2 separate regions of the Homo sapiens genome follow, and region 2 is linked to region 1. Evidence: fine-mapped expression QTL. A gene starts in region 1. The other region holds a variant in brackets. All regions are shown on one strand. Distances are between the middles of the regions. Region 1 holds the start of SFR1 (SWI5 dependent homologous recombination repair protein 1). Region 2 overlaps CFAP43 (cilia and flagella associated protein 43).

The links. PIP is the estimated chance that this variant, and not a neighbour inherited with it, causes the effect.
Region 2: its variant is the best candidate, but not a certain one, in a credible set for the expression of SFR1 in monocytes after R848 (Quach 2016, PIP 0.80).

The regions. Positions count from the first base shown.
Region 1 is chr10:104,118,172-104,127,440 of GRCh38, forward strand. SFR1 (SWI5 dependent homologous recombination repair protein 1) reads left to right here and starts at 4,000. Exons shown (of 4, transcript NM_001002759.2): 1 at 4,000-4,025; 2 at 4,794-4,915; 3 at 5,543-5,953; 4 at 7,342-8,212. The coding sequence starts at 4,013. The coding sequence ends at 7,533. RefSeq lists enhancers at 2,063-3,262, 2,746-2,845, 3,418-4,081, 3,476-3,525 and a silencer at 3,766-3,995.
Region 2 is chr10:104,140,029-104,149,375 of GRCh38, forward strand. CFAP43 (cilia and flagella associated protein 43) reads right to left here. Exons shown (of 38, transcript NM_025145.7): 29 at 7,863-7,970; 30 at 6,235-6,321; 31 at 5,448-5,536; 32 at 3,398-3,611; 33 at 2,253-2,365; 34 at 814-973. Among named protein-coding and RNA genes, the nearest start is that of SFR1, 23 kb to the left of the region's middle. RefSeq lists an enhancer at 6,763-7,294. The variant A/G (reference allele first, on the strand shown) is at 4,844.

The DNA.
Region 1 (9,269 bases):
ATACTGATCCTCTCCGTATCTCCGTGTTCTAAGTAACCATCCTACTCAGTGAGGCAATCGCTCCGGCATGCCTAACAGCTATGTCAAGGGCCCTTTTCTCTTGAAGTTGATAATAAAACCCTCTCTTGCATATCTTGGCTAAAGAATATGAAATAGTTAAATCATAAAGGTCAATGTTTGGTAACAAAGTCTCTACAAGTGCAGCCATTACACATTATGGAATTCCATGTGAGATCGTTAAGGTAATAGAGAAAAAAATAGAAATATTTGTCAATTATTCTCAAAGAGAAATTTATGAAATTACACAGCACTAAAACATCACTTTACCATGGATGGGTCTATAAGATGCGACTTGAATTCATGGCAAGAGAAACTCATAGAAGAGTTTTTGAAGGGCATTTTCAACTTATGTACAAATGTCATAAGAAGTGTTGAAAGTCAGTTAAGAGAATTTGGCAGATTTTCTTGTGTTATAAATTTGTATTAAATTTAGTTTGTTTAATTTGTCCTAATGGACATCATAAATCAACAGAATCATGTGGATTTTACACAATTCCTCACCCAAGTGGATTTTAATCCTAGTTTCAGAAGCGTATATTTTTATCTTTGTTTCTTTTTTTTTTTTTTTTTAGAAGGAGTCTCTGTCGCCCAGGCTGGAGCGCAACGGTGTGATCTCGGCTCACTGCAATCTCCGAATCTCCGCCTCCCAGGTTCAAGCGATTCTCCTGCCTGAGTCTCCCAAGTAGCTGAGACTACAGACGCCCACCACCACGCCCAGCTAATTTTTGTATTTTTAGTAGAGACAGGATTTCACCATATTGGCCAGGCTGGTCTTGAACTCCTGACCTTGTGATCAGCCCGCCTCGGCCTCCCAAAGTGCTGGGATTACAGGCGTGAGCCACTGCACCCGGCCTATGTATTCGTTTCTTTTAAAAAAAAACCTATGGATACTAGTTATGTCTACATGACACAAAAATTTTTGTCAATACAGAAAAGTCTATGGTAATATAATTTAAGTTAGCTTGAGACTATTGTTAAGATTAAAAAATAATACTAAAGCTGAGAATTTAAAAATTAAAATGAACATTTTAATTATGGCTAAAAAGTACGTGTGTTTGTGCTTTTTTGTATAGGTAGAGAGAGAGACTGAGAGACTATTTACTATTCTTTTCTTGCCATTAGACAAGAATAAGAATAAAAAAAATTTTTTTGTAAAACCTCATAAAGATTTTAGGTCTATATCATCATCCCACCAACAATAATTACAGACAAGAACGAAGCATTTTACCACTCCCTGATGAGTAACAAAGTAGCCAACAGTAGCCTTGGGTATTGAAGAAATTTTAAAACACAAGGAAAGCCTGACTTAAGTTGATATTAATTACTATTATTATTGGAGTCTACTGCTTAAATTGTTCTCTATGGCAGGGTAAGGAGTCTTTGCTTCCTGGCTCACTGGGCCAGTATTTTTTCCTGCCTGAAAAGTTTCATACGAAACATACAATGTCCTGTGTCAGAAACACCAAAGTCTTCACAGGCTAATAGATTTGAAGTCACTTAAGACATTGAAATGTACGCTATGCTTTATCTAAAGGTACAATTAAAAGTATGGGGGCTATATTCCAGATCTCTGACATGAAGCCGAGAGGAAACTGGATTTCCAGTTTGTTATGTGAAAAGGTTAAGTAAAATACAAACTTCTGTACAGGGAGATAATTCAGTTCTAATAATGCATGAAAGCCAGAGATGTAGATCAACAAATGCACATTTCTGAAATACGGGTTTTTCTGAGTATATGTTCTGAAGTTCTTTGAAAATCTGGCCAAACAATCCCATTTTAAGATACCAGTTCACATAATAAGCAAGTCAGAACATTTGCAAGGCAAAATGTTGTTTTCCTTTCTGCAGCCAGGAAAAACACAGCTCTAAGCTTAGGTTGTAACGGTAAAAGGATTTGGGAGCTGCTGATTTTAGAGACTCATAAAAACAACTCGCCCTTATGCCGGGAGGTATAAAGAATATGCAGAGTCTGCACTGTGCTTCTAGTGTCAGGACAAATCATTCTGCTTTTTCTTTGAGATTAACTGATGCCAATGGATGAGTAAAGGGAGAAATAAATGTACAGACTGAGACCTGCAGCTTGGTGAGGTGAGTAACACCTTTATCACAAAATCATGAGTTCTCTCTTCCCCTTTGTAAATTCCTTGGGGTTAACTTATGTAATTTTAAAAAATTTTAGGAGTGAAATATGTATTATTAATCATATGTGAGGCTCTACATTTTCTGCTATTTATGGTTTATATTGTGTGGGATCTTACAGATCACAGCATCTTTTTAAAATATATGTGCTTTTTTGGGGGGTGGGAGATAAATCAAGGGGTGAAACTGAAGGTGATACATTCCCTTAAATCCATTAGGGAATGGTGAATACACTTGCATATATAAAATAACTACTGAGTGCTTCCTAGATACCTAGCTCTGTTCCAGCTGCCTCTCACCAGTTCTCATTTAATTCTCCAATCCCATATTAAGAGGTGAAGAAACTGAGGCACAGAATCACCTCATTAAGAAGCACATAAAGTATGGTGCCAGGATTTGAACCTAGACAATTTGACTGTAACGTGTACGCCCCTAATCATTCCCTTAGGTAGTCCTCAGGTTCTGTAATTATTATACCTGACTGCTTAAGACTCAGGTAACTCCCTTTTGGCCACTTCTAAGCCACTACTGTCAGATGTTATTAATAGTAAAGAGACGATATCAATGTTTAAAATGGCCATTCAATAAGAGGACTGAAAACACTGGCCCCTGGAAATTCCCAACTTCCACGTGACTCAGAAGTTACTCAACTCTTTCACTAAACCCAGTGCTCCACCCAATGTAGCTAACTTTGTCGTCGCGTAGCAACAGAACCTCGCCATACTGGAAGCGGGGCGCGGGGGGGGGATTTTCTCGACTGAGGATGCTGCTGCCCGGTAGCCAGCAAGGGCCCTGTCGGTCTCAAACGTGAATTTTGGACCGACACAATCTCATGTAGTGATTGTTCTGCTTCCTGTGTTGCGCCACAACAAATTTCCTTGGGCTACATTTTCCCTCAGATTTGAGTAAAAGATTTGAGGTCACGCTAAGGAGCCTGCATACTGAGGTACAGAAACGGTTTTTTGTTTACAACAACAACAAAAAACCTCGCGACGGGACCGCCGAGTTTGCGGCAGCCAAAAAAGCTAGCGATGAGCTCAGCTAAAGTGCCGGGACTCTCGGATAGATTTCTAACATGTTTGAAATGTGGACCCCAACGCTGGAACCCAACGCTGTTCTTTTGTGGTCTCTGGAACCACCACGCTGGAATAGGCTGGAACCCAACCAACGCTGTTCTTTTGTGGTCTCTGCCTCTGGGGAGTCCACAAGCTGTAAATCTAACATGCAGCCAGCCGTGCGGCTTCTGGCCGCCCCACGTCTGAGTAAAGCCTTCACTGTGACTAGCAGGGAGAGGAGACTGACTGGAGCCAGAGAATGGAGGCGGCGGGCTGGCGGGGGTGGGGAGAGGCACTTTCAGGCGCACTTCACAGACGCACAAAAACAAGGAAGCCTGAAGGGAAGGCGGTTGAAAATAAGGCAACAGAAGCCGCGAACGGAAGCGCGCCCCCCTCAGGATTGGTTTAACATTCCGAAGCTCAGCCTCGCCCGCCCCGAAGACCTGCTGCGGATCGCGGCCGCGCGCGCGCGCACTCACGCTGCTCTCGGGCGCTGGGCGGGGAGAGCCGCGCGCACCGGTTAATTCTGCCAATCATGCGTCTGGGCCTCCCATCGTGTGGGCCAAGCCCCGCCCCAACCACCCGCTGGCGGAGGCGCGCGCGCAGTCCCACCGCTCTGAGTCGCTGAGTGAAGCGGCGCCTCGCGCGTCAGGCAATCTGGCCAATTGCGCATCTTTTCCGCCTACCGCACGGCCCCGCCCCTGCCACAGGATCGATTTACGGCCGCAGGTGCGCGCGCTTTTTTGCTCTCGCTGGGAATGGCGGAGGGAGGTACCCTGCTGAGGGGAAGGGGGGATCCCTGACACCTGGGCTTCCCCGGGAGTCGGCTGTGGAGTCGAGTTGAGCTCCCTTTCCGGGTCTGGGGAACTCAACCTCACCTTATGCCTGGGGTCTCCGGGGAACTAGTGGGCTTTCTGCAACGGGGGGAAGGAGGGGACGACTCCCGCCCCTAGTTTACCCCTCAAAAGTTAATGCCTTTGTCGGAGGAAGCAATTTCAGTCCACTCTCCTTTTCAGTCCCTGTTGGCCGCTTAAACTAAAAGGCTACAGACGGGCTTAAATGCGTCTCCGCTGTGTTTCTTATGCCTCGGGCCGGCAGGGTAACGGGTTCTAGTCACAGCTTGTAGAGTTCAGGATGGGTGACATTCAGGTCCTATTGTTTTTGAGTCAAGGTTTCGGCTATAGCTTCTTGAATTATGAAGCTGTCATAATAAAGAATTCCTGATTATCTAAAGCTGTTATTCTTCCCTACTTCCAAGGCAGAATTTGAATATATTTTGGTGGATGAAACGAAAACAAGGAGAGTCTTGTGACTATGAGATACTAGCTGGTTGATGTATCATGAAAAACTTAGTGGTCCCTATGTGGGAAGGTAAATGGAAAACTGCAAAAAGAGCAAGAATGAATTACAAAGTGAAATTAGAAGAAATATCTGGCTTACTTGTGGATGCTTTGTACACCAATACAATATATTATTTGATAAAAGTCGACTATAGAGAGGTGTGGTTAATTCGATTATTTTATAATTTTTCTTTTTTAGAGAAAAACCAAGATTTCACTTTCAAGATGGAAAGTCCGTCAGACTCAGCTGTGGTTTTACCTAGCACTCCTCAGGCCTCTGCGAATCCATCATCTCCCTATACAAATAGTTCCCGAAAACAAGTATGAAAATCTTTGTTCTTCCAGTGGATCCATTATGTGTTTCTAAGTATTGTGGCAGTGGTGGTTTAAATTCTACGGAAGGTTGTTAATTAACATAATGTGTAGCATAAATAAGTAGACATTTTATTAAATAATTTTGTTTTTCTTCTAAGGTGACATATATGACACCCACCAGCCCCCTTCCATATTTTCCTCTTGAATGAATTCATTTCAGTTAGTTTCAGATTAGGTTATTACAATACTCCAGATGGAGAAAGTTTGCATCTGTGCAATATTATTATGAAGGTCTTTAGTGGCAGAGTCTAGGTCTTTTCCTTACTCTGTAATTCTGAAGCACCTGGAGTACTATCAGGCATGTGCTTGTTACTGAACAAATGTTCCTTGATTACTGGGATAAACTTCTCAACACTTTTGGAAAGGTGTTGATCTTGCTGAAGTAAAAAGGAAATAAAACAAATGGAGCTTCCAGAAATTAAAGTCATTTTGTGATGCCTTCTTTAGATGTGGAGACAGAAAGCCATCTAGTGGTGTCTAGCATAGAAATGGAAGGACTTTATTTCTGGTGATTTATTGACATTAAGAATGTTTTTCTTGATTCACATTTTTAATGTTTTGTGCTCTTTATAGCCTATGAGTGCAACACTTAGAGAAAGATTAAGGAAAACAAGATTTTCATTTAATTCCTCTTACAATGTGGTGAAACGTCTTAAAGTAGAGAGTGAAGAAAATGATCAGACCTTTTCAGAGAAACCAGCATCTTCCACAGAGGAAAACTGTTTGGAATTTCAAGAAAGTTTTAAACATATAGACAGTGAATTTGAAGAAAATACAAATTTGAAAAATACTTTGAAGAATCTCAATGTCTGTGAATCTCAGTCACTTGATTCTGGATCATGCAGTGCTCTCCAAAATGAGTTTGTGAGTGAGAAGCTTCCTAAACAAAGATTAAACGCTGAAAAAGCCAAATTGGTGAAGCAGGTTCAGGAGAAAGAAGACCTTCTTCGGAGGCTAAAACTAGTCAAAATGTATAGATCAAAGGTGAGAAGAATTTCAGGACCATTGCATAATTTTTATTTTTACATAAATTACAGGAAAGTAATTTCAAAAATAGAATTTTTTTTTTTACCATAATAAGCAATAAGCCAAATATTCAGAAACCTGGCTTCCAACAGCTTTAATTCAACTCCAGATTTAGAGTAGAAAAGGCCCTTAAACACCAGGTAAAACTTTTTAAGAATCTCAGCTCTGATTTAATATGCAGTTAAACTTTTCTCTCTAGTTTCTAGCCCACAGCAATATTAGAAGTATTAAATGTTAGATGCAAGTACAATGGGAACAGAAGTGAAAGCTGACAGTGAATTAGTAAAACTAAAAATGGGCTGTAGAGTACAATAAAAGGTATTTTTAGTAATGATCTTGTGTCTCCCCCAAATAATTAATGTGATTCAGCCATTTTATTTGAGAAAATATATATATATATATATTATATTTTAGATTTCAACCCATATAGGTTGAATTAAATAGAACTTGGGTACTTGGAAGGAGAATAATCTTTATTACCTGGAAAATTCATATATATGCAATAGCTCATTTTCCCTGAATTACGTGGAATAAGTGATGGGATAGTGTATCTCATTTGTTCTCTTGAAATTCTGGAGTTTTTAAAAAATAAAATTTAGGAGTATTGAATGTTGAAAAAATATATTTTATTTATTTATTCATTCTTTTTTTAGAGACATGGTCTCTGTTGCCCAGCCTGGAGGGCAGTGGTGCAGTCATAGCTTATTGCAGCCTTGAACTCCTGGGCTCAAGTGATCCTCCCAACTCAGCCTCCCTAGTAGCTGGGACTACAGACATGTGCCATCACACCTGGCTAATTTTTTAAAATTATTTTTTTGTAGACATAGAGTCTTGCTATTTTGCACAGTGTAGTCTTGAACTCCTGGGCTCAAGCAGTCCTCCCACCTTGGCCTCCTAAGGTGCTGGGATCCCAGGTGTGAGCCACCATCCCCAGCCTAAAAAAATATTTTTAACTTGAATATTGTAATTTTAAAGAGCAGTTTTAGGTTCATAGCAACATTTAGTGGAAAGCATAGTGTCATTTTTTAAAAAGTACAGTTGTAATACAGTAGATTTTTCCCTGTATTATTGCTTCTTGACATAGTTTTGGCCCTATTTAATGATTTGATTTTTCCCTTATCATAAAGATGGCCCAGAGCTTAAGCCAACAAAATAGCCATAGAACTCAAGTTGAGTGACATTGTAACCATTCTACATATGACCATCCTACTTTTTCCTAGATAGAAGTCCCATTCATCCCTGTGTATGTTAGCCTTTAAACCTGCACATCCACTAATTTAACAACTTTAATTAAGTTGAACTAGCATGACTAGTTATTGACATACATGTTTTTTTTTCTGTTTCAGAATGATCTGTCTCAGTTACAGTTGTTAATAAAGAAGTGGAGAAGCTGTAGCCAGCTCTTGCTTTATGAGTTGCAGTCAGCTGTGTCTGAAGAGAACAAGAAACTAAGCCTTACTCAATTGATAGACCACTATGGGTTAGATGATAAATTACTACACTATAACAGAAGTGAAGAAGAATTTATAGATGTTTAATTCCTGATTTTTGCTCCAGAATATCTTTGAGAATGACAACTTAATTAAAAGATACTTAGGCACTTTTTTTTTTTTTTTGAGACTGAGTTTCGCTCTTGTCATCCTGGCTGGAGTGTGATGGTGCGATCTTGACTCACTGCAACCTCTGCCTCTCGGGTTCCAGCAATTCTCCTGCCTCAGCCTCCCGAGTAGCTGAGATTACAGGCGCCCGCCACCATGCCCGGCTAATTTTTGCATTTTTAGTAGAGACTGGGTTTCACCACGTTGGCCAGGCTGGTCTCGAACTCCTGACCTCAGGTGATCCACCGCCTAGGCCTCCCAAAACCATTAGGGCTCAGAGGAAGGTATCCCAATGAATATCAATTAAGGGCACTTTAATATATAAATTATAAACTAAGTTCTAAAAGGAAAATTAGTATTTTGGATAGATTTGTCAAAACGACATTTAAGTCATGTTTAAAAAGTCATTTGGGCAGTTCTGGAAACTAGTTTTAATACATTTGTTTTTTATGACAAAAAGTTTTATTTTAAATGTTAAAAATTGTCCAATCTGGTGAATGTCTAACCCTAAAGTTTAAAAATTTCTGCCTCCTAAGTTTATGTACCTTGTTTCCATCCATTTACCACATATTTCCATCTGATAGTCTAGCAGGTAATTAAACTTATATGTCCAAAACCATATTCTTCCCTGTCTCTTCAAATGTGTTTTGCATATTCATCATTTAGTGAAACAACCATCTATTTCTTCTTCTTTTTTTTTTTGAGACAGAGTTTTGCTCTTGTTGCCCAGGCTGGAGTGCAATGGCACGATCTTGGCTCACCGCAACTTCCGCCTCTGAGGTTTAAGTGATTCTACTGCCTCAGCCTCCCGAGTAGCTGGGATTACAGGCATGAGCCACCACCCTGGCTAATTTTGTATTTTTAGTAGAGACGGGGTTTCTCCATGTTGGTTAGGCTGGTCTTGAACTCCTGACTTCAGGTGATCTGCCCGCCTCAGCCTCCCAAAGTGCTGGGATTACAGGCATGAGCCACCACACCCGGCTAAACCATCTACTTCTTATAAAACTACATTTCCTTATCTCCCACCCACATGAAGGTATCATGGCATATAAGGTTCTTCGCATTTGTTTGCCTTTCTAGCTTCATCTGTGAAATGGGTTAAATTTAGATTGGTTATTCTATTTATGAACCCACCTCCACAGGTTGGGTTTCTGCTGCCAAATTATACAGTTGTACCTATCATTTTGGCCATATATGGAGATAGGACCCAAACTGGGCCAGTCTCTGAAAATTTGGAATTTAGCTCAGGAAAAGAAAGCCCATCTCTTTTTGTGACTGCAGCTGTTGTATATATACCTGGAAGCAGCAGAGCTGACATGCTTAAGGGCAGTGAGTGTGCTTACCGAGAAAGGCAGAGGTGATAGGAGAGAATTTTATGGATCAGTGGCTTCCTGGTTTTAGTTGCTAGTCATTCTTAAGAGCTTTCTGGATTTCTGCTTTTGGGTCCTTTTAAGTGTTAAAACAGCTTTACTTAGCTTTTTCAAAAGCACTTCCCTACTAGTTTAGCACTCCTCTGAACCCCCCTCAAGTACATCCCACTTTCAGTCCAGTCCCTCCACATAATCTAACCAGTGTTGAATGGTTGGCACAGCAGGAGACGCCAGGGCCCTGCTTTTGTGTCCATTCTAATTGTTAGTGCCATGCCAGTAAACTCTTACCCTGCCCACATACACAAA
Region 2 (9,347 bases), 22 kb after region 1:
GGAAGTCACAACAGAAATTAGAAAATATGTAAAAGAAAATTAAAACACAAAATATTAAAATTTGTAGAATACAGATAAAATAAAGCTTATAGGGAATATTTTTTTAGGACTCAATTATACCTAAAGCTTATACAGAAATAACATTAAATGTTCATATTAGAAAAGAAGTAAGGTCTGAAATCAACTAACTAAGCTTATCTAAGATTATCTTTGCCTGAGTAGGCTGGGCCTAAAAAAACGATGGCATACTAGAATGGACATTTAGCTCTGTGATCCTTCTTGAACCTTAGAATTATGGAGGGAGCTTTTAAAAAATACTCATCCTGGGGGTGGGGTCTGAGCACATTTATAAAGTTCTTCAAATGATTCTAATGTGCAACCACAGTTAGGAAACCACTGACTTAATTGAATTAAAATTACTTATGAAAATGGGAGAATAATGTAAAATATTTGGTACAGCAGGCAATATGTTTTGTCTTTAAACAAGTATAATTGGCCAGGTGCAGTGGCTCCTGCCTGTTAATTCCAGCACTCTGGGAGGCCAGAGCAGGAGGATCACTTGAGCTCAGGAGTTTGAGAACAGCCTGGGCAACATATTAAGACTCTGTTTTTACAAAAAACTAATTTTAAAACAATTAGCTGGGTGTGGTGGTGTGAACCTGTACTCCCAGCTACTTGGGAGGTGAAGGTGGGAGGATCTATTGAGCCTAGCTAAGGGTTAAGGCTGCAGTGAGCCATGATTGTGCCACAAGACTCTAGCCTGAGTAACAAAGCAAGACCTTGAATTAAAATAAAAATAAAAAGTATAATTACCCGAATCACAGAATTCAAGTCTTCAATTATGTTCTTGTTGATGAGAATTGCATCAGAATACTCCAGTACTAGCTGGAAATTTTCCAGTTCTACTTGTCCTTGTTTAAGAAGAATTTGGATTGTCAAATTCAACTGGAATCTCACTTTCTCTTCCTGTAATCTGAATTGAAAAGTACTTCAAAGCAAGTAGTTGTAATATATTTCAAATTTCACCTATTATCTGAGAATATAAAAATCGAATCAGCTTAAGGAAAACATGCTGGAGATTAGTGTGGAGAATATTTTCCTGATGATGAGCTTTCCTAGAGGTCTCTCTGAAACCTCTTCCTATTGATGCAGAATTATACCTGGGTTGCTCAAAAAATGGTATGGACAGAAATACATTTATAGATTTTTACTTTAGGATTAAGAAAAGATTGTATAATTTTGACGGTAATAAAAGTAAAGTAAAAATGAAGAAAATAGAGACACTTTTAAATAACAAATCTGGCCAGGCGCAGTGGCTCATGCCTGTAATCCCAGCATTTTGGGATGCCGAGGTGGGTGGATCATCTGAGGTCAGGAGTTCGAGACTAGCCTGGCCAACATGGCGAAACCCCATCTCTACTAACAATACAAAAATTAGCCAGGGGTGGTGACAGGCACCTGTAATCCCAGCTGCTTGGGAGGCTGAGGCATGAGATCTCTTGAACCTGGGAGGTGGAGACTGCAGTGAGCCCAGATCGTGCCACTGCACTCCAGCTTGTGTGACAGAGTGAGGCTCCATTTCAAAATAAATAAATAAATAAATAAAATAACTCTATTAAAATTCTGAACTTATTTATTGATTTCTGATACTATACTAACAATATTTAATATGTAAGTTACTTAACAAATCTATTTCTGGGTAATTCATATCCTCGCTATAGCCTAGATCTAAAAATGATGTGTTCTCAATGAATTTGGGAACATCAGAGAAGTATTTATCGATGAGGCTATAAATATAGCCAAAAAATGAAGCAAGGACTTAAATATCTTAATCACTTAGTAAACAACAAGTTCCCCTAAAGAAAAATATATCAGTTGGCTGCGTGTCTACATGGAAAGTTCTTAGACATCTGCTTAATTTTCCACATGGTTAGCTTATATGCCTTGAGCCCCAAAGTACTGAAAAACAGGTTCTTTGTATTTTTATGTGGAAGGGGCCGACTTAAAACAATACTAAGATTTTTCTGAAACTTGCTTATTTGTAATAAGAGCAACAAAACGTGGGAAAGTTCCATCCTGAATCAAGGTCTATGTAACAAAGCAGGCTTTTTAAAATAGAAATTTTAAAGCACAGTGCTGGAAGGGAGATGGCTGTAAAGCAGTCAGTAGGCATTCTCCCCAGTGATAACACAACCTGATTTAGCCCTAATTAGACTTTGAATAGGTGAACATGAAAGAAAGCTTCAAATTACAGGATGAGTTCATGGAACACTCTCTCAATCTCCTGTTGCACCTTCTCTTCCTCCTCAACTCTCTTCTGGAGGAAAGTTGCCATTTCCAATAAGTCAGCTGCTTTCTGCTTTACCTAAAGAAACCAAGCCAGAAACATGTCAGAACATATGGAGCTTCAATTTTAGACAACATACATCTTTTAACTTTTTAAATTTAAAAACCTTAACAGGTCTATCTTTCGAAGAAAGTAATAAAACATTTAAATTTAAATGTCTAAAACTTACATGGTATGTAACAATTTGAACGATTTGAAAGTATCAAATTTGCTTCTTGGTGAAAATCAAGTATGCAGGCAACTATAAATTCTTTTATATCTTATTTTTAAAATTTGTTCTCATCACTTTAAGTGAAATTATAGAATCCTAGGTACTTTAACAAAAATATGCCAGCCTGATGCATGTGGGCATTAAATTTAGGGAATTTGGGGTAGTGGTCAAGAAGCAACAAGAGGAAGGATTCTCTTCCCAAATAAAGACCCTCTTAAATTTTTACTCGTTGCCACATTCTAGCAAAACTATAAAGTTGGTTCTGCTGAGCCAAATATAATTCTAATCTATGCAAAATGAGATAACCTACAACAGTGCTGTCCAAGAAAAATATAACGTGAGCCATAAATGTGAGTCACATATGTAATTTTAAATTCTGTAGTAGCCGCATTATAAAAAGTGAAATCAAAGAAATGAACTTAATTTTACTAATATATTTTAATTAAATGTATCCAGAATATTATCACTTCAACCTATAATCAATATAAAAATATTAATGAGACATATTTCTTTTTGTTCATACTAAGCCTTCTAATGTGTATGTTTTCCACTTACAGCACATCTCAGTTAGGACTGGCAATATTTATTTCAAATGCATAATAACCACTTGTGGCTAATGGACACTATTTTGAACGGCACCAGTCTAAAAGCAACAGGCCTACACTTAGCCTTCAATAGCACCAGGGTTAATATAGTATTTCATTATCTTATTACTATGACCAAATACTACCCTAGCAGGGAAACCTAAATAATTAGCTTTTTTGGTTACACTGACCAATGTAAACTATGTATTTGATATTAGTACACTAAAAATTAAATTAAGTTAAAATAGTATATACTTTCTGTTCATTTTCCACTTTTGCTCGTCTTGTCATGCAGAAATGATTCCAGACCAAAGGGTCCAAGCCTTCTGGCATGTTACTAATATTGTCCAACTCATCCATAGCTTTCATTAACTGGGCAAAGGCATCCTTATTCAACTTGCCAGATCCTGGTAGTTCTCCGAAAGGGACAACGCTGGTTGTTTCTGAGTGCGTTTTCTGTTTGGAAATCCTGGTATTACCAAGAAAAGCCCATCAACATTTCACATTCTCATAAAAACATCAATGTGAAACAATTAGGCCCTTAGCACAGGCATAACACATTGTATGGCTCTTCCCTTTGCCATGTGATGGCTGGTAGGTGGGTTATTCCACAGATAAAGGGATCCACTTTGCCCTTCTTCCATACTCTCCAGGTTCTCAGACGTGACCTTGGCTAGACTACAGATGTCTCCAACTATTGTCAGCACTGACAGACAATTGTGTCTGTGCTAGGACACATTTCCTTTCTGTATACTGTAAGCAGGCAAATAAATCAACCCATCGTTTCACCTCAGCCTCCCAAAGTGTTGGGAGTACAGTGGTGAGCCACCACCTGGCCAATTCTGTTTTTATCTACATTAATAGATTAGTTTCATTTCCCTGTGCTTCAGCTGGAAAGGGAAGAAGGGTACAAAGATTTGGGCGAGGCACTCACTATCAAGATGCTTTACAGTACACTGTGAGGTTGAAACTATATTATCATCCCCATTCTCTAGATGAGGAAAGTCAGCCTGGGAGAGAAGCTCATGGCCCAAGGCTATCAGTCTGACAGGTGTTGAAGTTAGGATTTAAAGTTGATTCTGTTTGACAAGAAAGCTTGTGCTTTTCCCACTGCTGCGGGAGGTCTCACTTCTTTTTCCACAAGGAGAAGGTATGTAATTGGGCTAATTATCACTCACTCTTTTAAAAATAGGAAAACCGCCGGGCGAGATGGCTCACACCTATAATCCCAACACTTTGGGAGGTTGAGATGGGTGGATCACGAGGTCAGGAGATCGAGATCATCCTGCTCAACATGGTGAAACTCCGTCTCTACTAAAAATACAAAAATTAGCTGGGCGTGGTGGCATGTGCCTGTAGTCCCAGCTACTTGGCAGGCTGAGGCAGGAGAAACGCTTGAACCCGGGAGGCGGAGGTTGCAGTGAGCAGAGATCGTGCCACTGCACTCCAGCCTGGGTGACAGACAGAGACTCCGTCTCAAAAAAAAAGGAAAACCAAAACAAGAGGCATGTTCTAGGTTAAATTCCCTAGGTTGCCTATAACCTGTCAGAGTTTGTATCTCAAACACAAACTAGCTGACTACATCTTTGTGACAAACTCCTTGATTTCTAGATTACATTTGATTGAAAACTGGAAATCTGCATTTATAATGGTGGAAATCAGTGATACTTTCTTAGAACTCTTTTCAAATGGTTATTTTCT[A/G]CCATTTATACTGGCATCTTTCAAACTTTAGGCACAAGCACATGAGATACTCTGAGGAAAAGCAATTTGTGGTCAAATAAGTTTGGAAAACGCTGCTTACTCTGTTTCTTACACTTGGAGATCCAAAGGCCAATAATACATTCTGCAGTAAAAGAAAAGCTGCTTAACTTCCTTTTTTTAACCCAGTATTTTCCCCAAACTTAGTTAGTCCTGGAAGCCTATTACAAGTAGTTCCGATTTATACATCAGGGAACTTGTGTTTGTTTGAACGCACTTTAGAAAAAACTGTTTTTAAATCTGTGTGCCATCTATGATGTAAGAGGAACTTCCTTAATGTACAAAGCAGAATCTACAATAGTACCGTGCTTACACAGATCCTTAACTATTTTTAAATAATGAAAATAAATCATTATTCTCTACCTTAAGATATAGACATAATCTCAAAAAATACTGAATTAGGATCAAAACCCTTAAACATCTCCACCTAAAAGATATTACACTGAATAATTCCATTTAATTGGGAGAAAAAAGCTGAAATCTAGTAACACTCCTCTTTATTTGCAAACTTTTTTCTCAGAAACACAATAGTGAAGGAGAAACAAACCTTGGTCGGCGTTTAAAAAGTTTGTAGAGTATATCCACTTGATGACCAGGAATTTCAGAAAATTCCTTTTTAAAGCTGCGATCCATAACCTAAGGACAAACATGACATTTGAGGACTGCAACTTGGTTTGGAAACCTTTTATTTGTTGACAATACTCTTCAAAATACAGGTGGTAGCACTTTGGTTTTAAAAATGCATGAAACCTTGATTTACAAAGTTGTTAGACATTAACCATTCTCTGTGCAATGATGTCTCAAAGATTTGTTTTGATAAGAAGCATCTAAGTGTATTAAAAATATTATTTCATATAACAGGTCTTAGAAATCATCCAGAAGTTTCCCAAAGAAGTGTCCCAAAATATATTTACCCAAAAAACATGAATGTTACTCTATTCTTTTCTTTTCTATTCCATTCTGTTCCATCTGTCTTCTTTATGCTATTCTATCCTATTCTTTTCCATTATAAAACTGCTGGTCATAACCTACTAAATTGATTTCATGGCCAAGTAATGGGGTCTGCAACCTAAAGTTTGAAAAGCCTTAAAGGCTAGATGATTTCCCTGTATTTTGTATAACAGAAAGCTTAAACCAGAGAAGCTTATAAAAATTCATTTTACACATGGATTTTCAAAAATATACAATGGCATAGAATGAAGTTCACCCATAGCTGAGAATTAAGTGGGAGAAAAATCTGTGAGAAAATTATATTATATCCCCTTTAACCTTCCTCCAATCCAGGCAGCAACAACTCTACTGCATTGTTGAGTGGGTAAGACAACAACTCTCACTTTGTCTTCTGCCAGTAAGTTGTCATAGTGCTCCTTGCACACATCCAGGTCTTCTCTAGATTTCCGAACAGCTTCTGAAGTCTGGCTCTATAACAGCATCAGGAATAGTTGATTGAAACTGGAGACTTTCCAGCATAAACAAAAATATTGGGGATACTAAAAAGAGCAAGGAATTTCCTAGTACAAGAGAAATATGTCTGTGAAGTATTTATTCATGAAGATAAGATTTATAGAAGAAAATACACCAATTGGGGACTTTGAAAGAACACCCAATCACCTGTTTCTAAGTACAGCCAACTCTGTGTATGAGTGTGTGAGTGTCTATGGAGCACACTGCATTCTTGGTAAGTCAGTGTGGAGGATGAAAGTGCACAGGCTTCGGAATCACATGGACCTGGGTTCTGAGAGACTGGATATACATGCAAACAAGGGCCAGACCATATGTAACAACAGAATTCTGACCCACAACCTCTACAATCATCAGCTGGGAAACTAAACCACAGCCTTTTTAAGGATTGGCCTCAAACTTTCAGGGCTTGATCATTACCACCAGCTTCTATAATTTTGTCCCCATTTCCAACCTAGGACCATCCAGAGAAAGCCAAATATGTTCCCTAAACCAGTAAAATGAGTTGTCCCGCTTCTAATTGGTTTGCCTCTAGCTTCCTCATGCCAACAACTTCCAATGATGTTGCATCTGAAGCCCTCTCTTCTTTGCACTATAAAGCTTTCCTACTCCTTTCCTGCCTTTGAGTCTGCCAAAAGTAACTGATGGTGGATGAGTCCCTTGCTGTGCCAAGCTCTGAATAAACAGCATCTGCTCATTTGCATTTGGATGTTCTTCACTTATTCCCACAGTTCCAGCTGCTGCTCTATTACACACTAGTGGCTGACTTAGGCATGCTACCCAGACTCTCTGAGATGGTATCCTCATCTGTGAAAGAAATCTAGTATGCTGCAGGGTTGCTATATGTAAAGTTGTATTTAGAAGAAGCTTTGCATATGCTGTTTAATAGGCTCTTAGAAAAAAGTTCATGTCATTTTTAAGTCACACATTCATAAATGCTCTTTACTAATACTACTAACAAAAGCTGACATTTGTAGAAACATTATGTGATAAACATTTTGTATTCATTGTCTTTTTAATGAACCATATCTATCCAAGCTCATATTTAGAGTTTTTCATAATACGGCAGTTTTTCATTCTATACGCAAGCCCATTGCTTACATCTTAGTAAATCTTAGCGTGTCCAGAGAGAAAAACATTCCCTAGGTAAGAGCTTGCAAATAGCTTAAAAGGTTATATGCCTTGTCCTAGGTCCCACAGCCAGTGCTTTCAACCATGAAGCTATATGGCCTCATTTTATAAACCATGTCATATGAAAGCTACACAGTTCTTTTGGCTAAATGATTGCAGATGCAGAATCACCTAACTTTATTAACAGATTGGAATGGTTACTTTCACCTGGCCCTGGAGCAAAGTTCCAGACAGGGAGCCAAGGGATGCACATGGTTATGTAGGAATGGTGCAAGGAAGGAAGGAAGGGTCTAGACACGTGAGCTCTTGCTAAATGAGGGGCATGTCTATCAGAAAATGCTTGTATTCAGATTTCAGACACTATTCTTACTTTCTCGTGCTGTTTCCTTGTAAGGTAGTTGTTCAGGAATTTTTCTCTAGAGCTTAATTCTTCATCCAACAATAAAGAAAATGCAAGGTTACTTATTTTCAGTTCCTCCTGTAGAAATATTTAAGAAAAAGGTTGGTGGAATTACTTCCACCTGAGACAATATTTTCTATAGACTTGGCACTAATCAAGCAAGTTTATGACATACACATAAACTTTAAAATGTAAGAGAAACATTTTAAAGAAAAAGGGAATACAGCTTATTGAAATAACTTCAGTTATTTTACCTTTTTCATAATTTCATTGTAAGGTAAATCACATATACAAAAAATACATAACATGAATATATAATTTAATGGGTTATTATAAAGGCAAACACTCTTGTTAGCACCACTTATCGCAAGAAACAGAACTTTACGACTGCAGTTGCTTCTTCCAGGAGTCCTCATCAAAATCTCAACCCCAGTACTAAACACTATCTTGACTTTTTATTATATATTGTGTTTCTTTGTAGTTTTATTACCCAGGGGTGTATAATGCTGTAGTTTGGATATTTGCCCCATCCAAACTGCATGTTGAAACGTGATCCCTGGTGCTGTAGGTGGGGCCTCATGGGAGGTGTTTGGGTCATGGGTATGGGTCCCTCATGAATAGATCAATTCCCTCCCTCAGGGGTGAGTGAGTTTATACTCTATTAGTTCCCCTGAGTGCTGATTGTTAAAGAGAGGATGGCACTCCCCTGCACCCTCTCTTGCCTCCTCTCTGACCATGTGATTTCTGCACACCCCAGCTCCCCTTCACCTGGCATAAATGGAAGCGGCCTGAGGCCCACATCAGATGCCCAATCTTGAACCTTCTAGACAGCAGAATTATGAGTCAGATAAACCTCTTTTCTTTATAAATTATGCAGCCTCAGGTATTATTTATAGCAACACAAAACAGACTAAGACAGAAACCTAGCCACTTCAGTATAACTTATTCATAATTTTTTTTCATGTCTTTTAAATCTCTTTTTACTACCTGGATGATGAAATAATCTGTACAACAAACTCCTGTGACATGAGTTTACCTACGTAACAAACCTATACATGTACCTCTGAACTTAAAGGTTAAAAATAAAATAAATCTCTTATACTCTTCACGTTCCCTTTCATTTCTTTTCCTCATAATTTATTTGTAGTTATCAGCAGTCTCTGTAGCATTGCAGAGTCTGGTTTTAATGCCTGTATATTCATGGTGTAGTTTATCAAGGCTTCATCCTTTTTATTTCTTGAAAAATGGCAGCTGGGTCCAGAAGCCTGATTAAATCTAAATTTGATCCTTTTAACAAGACTATAGGTGGTATTGTGTTCTTTGATCAGGAGACATATATCATCTGATTGTCTTTCTTTCTGTGATGTCAGCAGCTGCAGATACTCAACGCCCGGGTCCATTAATCCGTTGAGAGATGCAAAATGGTGAAAATCTGGTTTTAGTTTCCCTTTTCAC